Regions from separate parts of the Homo sapiens genome. Here region 2 is linked to region 1. The links come from fine-mapping of genetic effects on gene expression. A gene starts in region 1. The other region holds a variant in brackets. All regions are shown on one strand. Distances are from middle to middle. Region 1 holds the start of ARHGAP30 (Rho GTPase activating protein 30). Region 2 has its middle 3.6 kb from the start of TSTD1.

What was found. PIP is the estimated chance that this variant, and not a neighbour inherited with it, causes the effect.
Region 2: its variant is the best candidate, but not a certain one, in a credible set for the expression of ARHGAP30 in whole blood (INTERVAL, PIP 0.84).

What each region holds. Positions count from the first base shown.
Region 1 is chr1:161,068,597-161,071,502 of GRCh38, reverse strand. ARHGAP30 (Rho GTPase activating protein 30) reads left to right here and starts at 1,612. Exons shown (of 12, transcript NM_001025598.2): 1 at 1,612-1,975. The coding sequence starts at 1,879. NECTIN4 (nectin cell adhesion molecule 4) reads left to right here. Exons shown (of 9, transcript NM_030916.3): 9 at 1-505. RefSeq lists a silencer at 1,727-1,876 and an enhancer at 1,773-2,319.
Region 2 is chr1:161,033,953-161,036,858 of GRCh38, reverse strand. It overlaps the pseudogene GLRX5P2. Among named protein-coding and RNA genes, the nearest start is that of TSTD1, 3.6 kb to the left of the region's middle. RefSeq lists enhancers at 694-1,199, 1,200-1,706. The variant T/AT (reference allele first, on the strand shown) is at 1,364.

The DNA of each region.
Region 1 (2,906 bases):
CTGAGTAAGGTAAAATTGCATCCACCATTGTTTGTGATACCTTAGGGAATTGCTTGGACCTGGTGACAAGGGCTCCTGTTCAATAGTGGTGTTGGGGAGAGAGAGAGCAGTGATTATAGACCGAGAGAGTAGGAGTTGAGGTGAGGTGAAGGAGGTGCTGGGGGTGAGAATGTCGCCTTTCCCCCTGGGTTTTGGATCACTAATTCAAGGCTCTTCTGGATGTTTCTCTGGGTTGGGGCTGGAGTTCAATGAGGTTTATTTTTAGCTGGCCCACCCAGATACACTCAGCCAGAATACCTAGATTTAGTACCCAAACTCTTCTTAGTCTGAAATCTGCTGGATTTCTGGCCTAAGGGAGAGGCTCCCATCCTTCGTTCCCCAGCCAGCCTAGGACTTCGAATGTGGAGCCTGAAGATCTAAGATCCTAACATGTACATTTTATGTAAATATGTGCATATTTGTACATAAAATGATATTCTGTTTTTAAATAAACAGACAAAACTTGTTCTGTCTGGCTCCTGTCTTGCCCCTTGAACTGTGTAAGCTCTGAGTCACATACTCTCTGTCTCGGTACCATCCTTCCTGTAGTCCCAAGTAGGGGAAGACTTAGGATGCCTGTAGCTGGGAGGGAAGGGAAAGAATTGGCCTCCACAAGGCCTTTGGCCATCTCTGAGAGTCCCCTGGTAGGAAAGTGAAGCTAAGAACCCTTTCGAGGATGGCCAGTACCTTAGTTTGCAAAGTGTTTTAAATTCCTTTTTTTTTTTTTTTTGAGATGAAGTCTCACTTTGTCACCCAGGCTGGAGTGCAGTGGCACTATCTCAGCTCACTGCAACCTCCGACTCCCAGGTTCAAGCGATTCTCTCACCTCAGCCTCCCGTATAGCTGGGATTACAGGCACCCGTCACCATGCTCAGTTAGTTTTTGTATTTTTAGTAGAGACAGGGTTTCACCATGTTGGCCAAGCTGGTCTCGAACTCCTGACCTCAGGTGATTCACCCGCCTCAGCCTCCCAAAGTGCTGGGATTACAGGCGTGAGCCACTGCGCCCAGCCTGAATTCCTTATTGTACTGGAGACTCAACAACAGCTATGTGAAATAGGCAGCAGTGTACCCTTTTTTACAGGTAAAGAAACTGAAACTCAAGTTAAATGAGTTTTACAGACTCTTAGAGGTGGGAGGATTTAAAGGTCCTCTAGTCTGCTCCCTTCATTTTCCTAGGTTTGGAAACTGAGGCTCAGTGAAGTAATGCGATTTGACTGAGGTGCTAGATCCATCAGAGGCAGAACCCAGGCATCCTCCCTTGTGAGTGTGCTTTTTACAGCCCTGTGTCAACTTGCTCCCAGGCAAGCCCCAGGTCTCTACCTTGGACCCAAGAATTCTGGTCTCTAAGGGAGTTGGTCACCTGCTCACACCACAGACGCCATCACCCCACCCCAGGGCTCTGACATCACCTCCCCTGACCAATGAATGAAGTCCAAGCAAAGGGTGAGGATGTGAATGTCAGCTACCTCCCCCACCCTAGGCCCTGTGGTTGCAAAGATGCTCTAACAGGAAGTGGGTTAAGGAGCTGCACTGCTTCCTGCCCCCTAAAGCTGAGCGGGGCGAGGAGGGCGAGTGCCAGGCTGGGCCACGAGACACAGGACACAATTTCTTGCCAGGGTCCTGGTAGCTTCCTCTTCAACAGCCACTTCCGTGTGGCCGGGGCCCCAGGGGCAGGAGCTGCTGCCCGTTGCCCAGGCCACCCTCCACCCCCAATTGGGAGCCCTGCCCCCCTGGGGCCGGGCCAAGCCCAGCAGCTGGCTGGGATCCCATGGGGGACTGGTAGGGCACAGGTCTTGGGGGATAGAGGTGACCGGGCCAGTGCCCTGGGGCTCTGGCCATGAAGTCTCGGCAGAAAGGAAAGAAGAAGGGCAGCGCAAAGGAGCGGGTTTTTGGGTGCGACTTGCAGGAGCACCTGCAGCACTCAGGCCAGGAGGGTAAGGAGGCCGGCTCAGCTTCTGCAGGGTGGGTGGGGAGGCACTGGGCATCTGCAGCCCGATCCAGCCTGAAGGGCAGAAGCAGTTTCCGGTGCTCCTGGGGAAGGGGCAGTGGCCTGGGGTCACCATTCAAGAGAACTGTAAGTGGGCAAGACAGGAAATGTGGCTCAGTGAAGAAGGCAGGGCGGCTCCCTTGTGTAACTTTCTGGGGATGGGGTGGCTGAGGGGATGAGAATGTGAGTACCCAGGTAGCAGTGAGGGGGAGGATGGAGAGACTGGAAACCGAGGAGGAGTGGATGAAACAGCGGGCAGGTGACTGGGAACAGGAGAGGGAGGGTGAGGCGACAGGGTCAGGAGAGGAGTGGCTGAAGGGGAAATGATTATCCTTAGGTCTGAATGAAAGGAGACAGGGAAATGGCCCCAGAAGGGTCTCAAGATGGCCCTTGAGGCGGGTGGTTTCCTGGCTGGAGAACACCCAAGGACAAGGTCATGGGCTCTGTTCCCACTGCAGCCTTGCTGGGCCGCAGGGGATGATGTCGGGCTGGAAACAACCTCTGCCCCTAGTCTTTGTGATTCTCTTGTTGTCCCTGTGCAAAAGAGAAACAGGTTCAAAGTGGGGGGCAAGGGGAGAAGCTGCTGAAATGGGGAAGAATGAAAGAGAGGGTGTGAGGCCTGGCTTGAAGCTGGAGGTGGAGGGTGCAAAGGAGGGTGGGTGTGGAGCTGTCTGTGGAGCTCACCCAGCTCCCTCCCTGGGTTACCTTAGAGTGGGCTTTGAAGCCAGAAGGACCAGGGACAATATCAGGTTCACAACGGGGCCTGGCATGGAGCAGCCACTCAAAATCATTTCTTGATTCAATTTGAAATTGAACCCAGGCACCCTGGCTGCCCAGCCCAGCTTGTTTTTGGCACTTCAAGCTCCTCCTAGAGAAAG
Region 2 (2,906 bases), 35 kb after region 1:
CGATCTCCTGACCTCATGATCCGCCCACCTCGGCCTCCCAAAGTGCTGGGATTACAGGCGTGAGCCACTGCGCCCGGCCTCAGGTTTCTGTTTTTATCAACACTGATCTCTTATACTGGATTTAACAAATTTAATTGGTTGGCCAGGCACGGTGGCTCATGCCTGTAATCCCAGCACTTTAGGAGGCCAAGGCAGCGGATCACCTGAGGTCAGGAGTTTGAGACCAGCCTGCCCAGCATGGTGAAACCCCATGTCTACCAAAAATAAAAAAATTAGCCAGGTGTGGTGGTGCACACCTGTAGTCCCAGCTACTTGGGAGGCTGAGGCAGGAAAATTGCCTGAACCCAGGAGGCAGATATTGCAGTGAGCTGAGATAGTGCCACTGCACTCCAGCCTGGGTGACAGAGAGAGACTCAGTCTCAAAAAAACCAAAATTTAATTGGTTAAAAAGATGAAATTACACATGCTTACTGAAACAAAATTCAGCACTACACAGTAGGTATATGACTTCCCTCTAGTATAGTGTATAGTTTGATGCATAATACATTTTAAATATTTTCATGGCAGAGTTTTTACTTCTTAAGTTTGATTTTTGGAAAATGTATTCCTTAATCTGTGGAAGAGAAGATTGAGTCAGAAATGAATCCAGTTTTCTGATTTTTCATGCCTCTGAAGAACTTCTTTCAGGCATTTCCTGCATTCCTTGCCTGTCTCTCACCTCCTTTTCTTCCCTTCTGCCTTCTCTACTATACCCAGCCCTCCTACATTCATTCATTCATTTATTTATTTTTGAGACGGAGTTTTGCTCTTGTTGCCCAGGCTGGAGTGCAATGGCGTGATCTCAGCTCACCGCAGCCTCTGCCTCCCGGGTTCAAGCAATTCTCCTGCCTCAGCCTCCCGAGTAGCTGGGATTACAGATATGCGCCACCATACCCAGCTAATTTTGTGTTTTTAGTAGAGACGAGTTTTCCCCTCCACAGGTCTTTATTATAATTTGGTTATAGCATTTTATTATTATTATTGGCATAATTTACTTAACAATAAAACGCACAATTCTTGGCCCAGTATGGTGGTTCATGCCTGTAATCCTAGCACTTTGGGAAGCCGAGGCGGGCGGATCTCTTGAGGCCAGGAGTTCAAGATCAGCCTGGTCAACATGGTGAAACCCTGTCTCTACTAAAAATACAAAAATTAGCTAGGCCTGGTGGTGCTCGCTTGTAGTCCCAGCTACTCTGGTGGCTGAGGCATAGGCATGAGAATTGCTTGAACCCAGGAGGCAGAGGTTGCAGTGAGCCGAGGTCACGAGACTGTACTCCAGCCTGGGCGACAGAGCGAGACTCTGTCTCAAAAAAAAAAAAAAAAA[T/AT]GCACCATTTTCTTTTTTTACCCTGTGGTTGGCAGTTTATTTTAAAAAAACAACGCCCCAGTTATCACAGTTTCTTTTTAGTCCATTTTCCATAACAAAAGAAGCTACACAAAATTTGGAGGAAGATACTGTCCTTGCAGACTGACACAGTCTGCAAGAGGGGTCATGAATAATAATGATTTCAAAGCCCCTACTTTAACTCCTGAATTGGGCAAAGAATAAATGACAATATAAGAATGAATTTTGTTTGCAACAATATCATAATATAGCATTAATTATTACAGTGCAGTGGTTGTAATTAAGTTCACAATAAAATATTCTTAACCCAAACACCAGACAAACTAAAATCACTAGACTGCTCATGAACTGAAATGATCAGTGCAAGCAGTTGTTGTCTCAGTAATGAAAACCAAAATTGGAAAGGCTTTTCTGGCAGGGAGTCTCTGACATGAACGGCCCCCTCTCTGTTCATTGAGGCCCAGGCGCCCTCACTTGGAGTCTTGGTCTTTCTTTTAATCTAAAAGGGCAGAACAGAGCCCCAGCTTTTTCAGTTCTTTCACCAGGTACCCATTCTAGTACATATGCATAAGAATGTCACAGCCCCCCACAAACTCGCCATTGAGGTATCCATTGAGGATAGTGGGCCAGTTGGAATAGTCTTTTTTGTTTTTGAGACACAGTTTCGCTCTTGTTGCCCAGGCTGGAGTGCAATGGGGCGATCTCAGCTCACTGCAACCTCTGCCTCCGGGGTTCAAGTGATTGTCCTGCCTCAGCCTCCCGAGTAGCTGGGATTACAGACATGTGCCACCATGCCTGGCTAATTTTGTATTTTTAGTAGAGATGGGATTTCTCCATGTTGGTCAGGCTCGTCTCAAACTCCCACCCTCAGGTAATCCGCCCAGTCTCAAACTCCCACCCTCAGGTAATCCGCCCACCTCAGCCTCTCAAAGTGCTGGGATTACAGGCGTGAGCCACCGCACTCGACTAGAATAGTCTTTATTTTATTTATTTATTTATTTATTTATTTATTTATTTATTTATTTATGAGACAGAGTTTCACTCTTGTTGCCCAGGCTGGAGTGCAAGGGTGCGATCTTGGCTCACCACAACCTCCGCCTCCTGGGTTCAAGTGATTCTCCTGCCTCAGCCTCCTGAGTAGCTGGGATTATAGGCATGCGTCACCACGCCCAGCTAATTTTGTATTTTTAATAGAGACGGGTTTTCTCCATGTTGGTCAGGCTGGTCTCGAACTCCCGACCTCAGGTGATCCGCCCACCTTGGCCTCCCAAAGTGCTGGGATTACAGGCGTGAGCCACCGTGCCTGGCCAAAATGCACAATTCTTAAGCATTCAATTCACTGAATTTTGAATATACTCACTTGTAACCACCATCCTAAACACAATCTTGAACATGGAAATCCCCAGAATATCTCTAGGTGGCCTTTTCTAGTCAATCCCACCCTACCCCCTTTCTAGGTAACCGCTTTATCTTTTATCACCATAAAGTAGTTTTTAGCCAGGTGTGGTGACTCACGCCTATAATA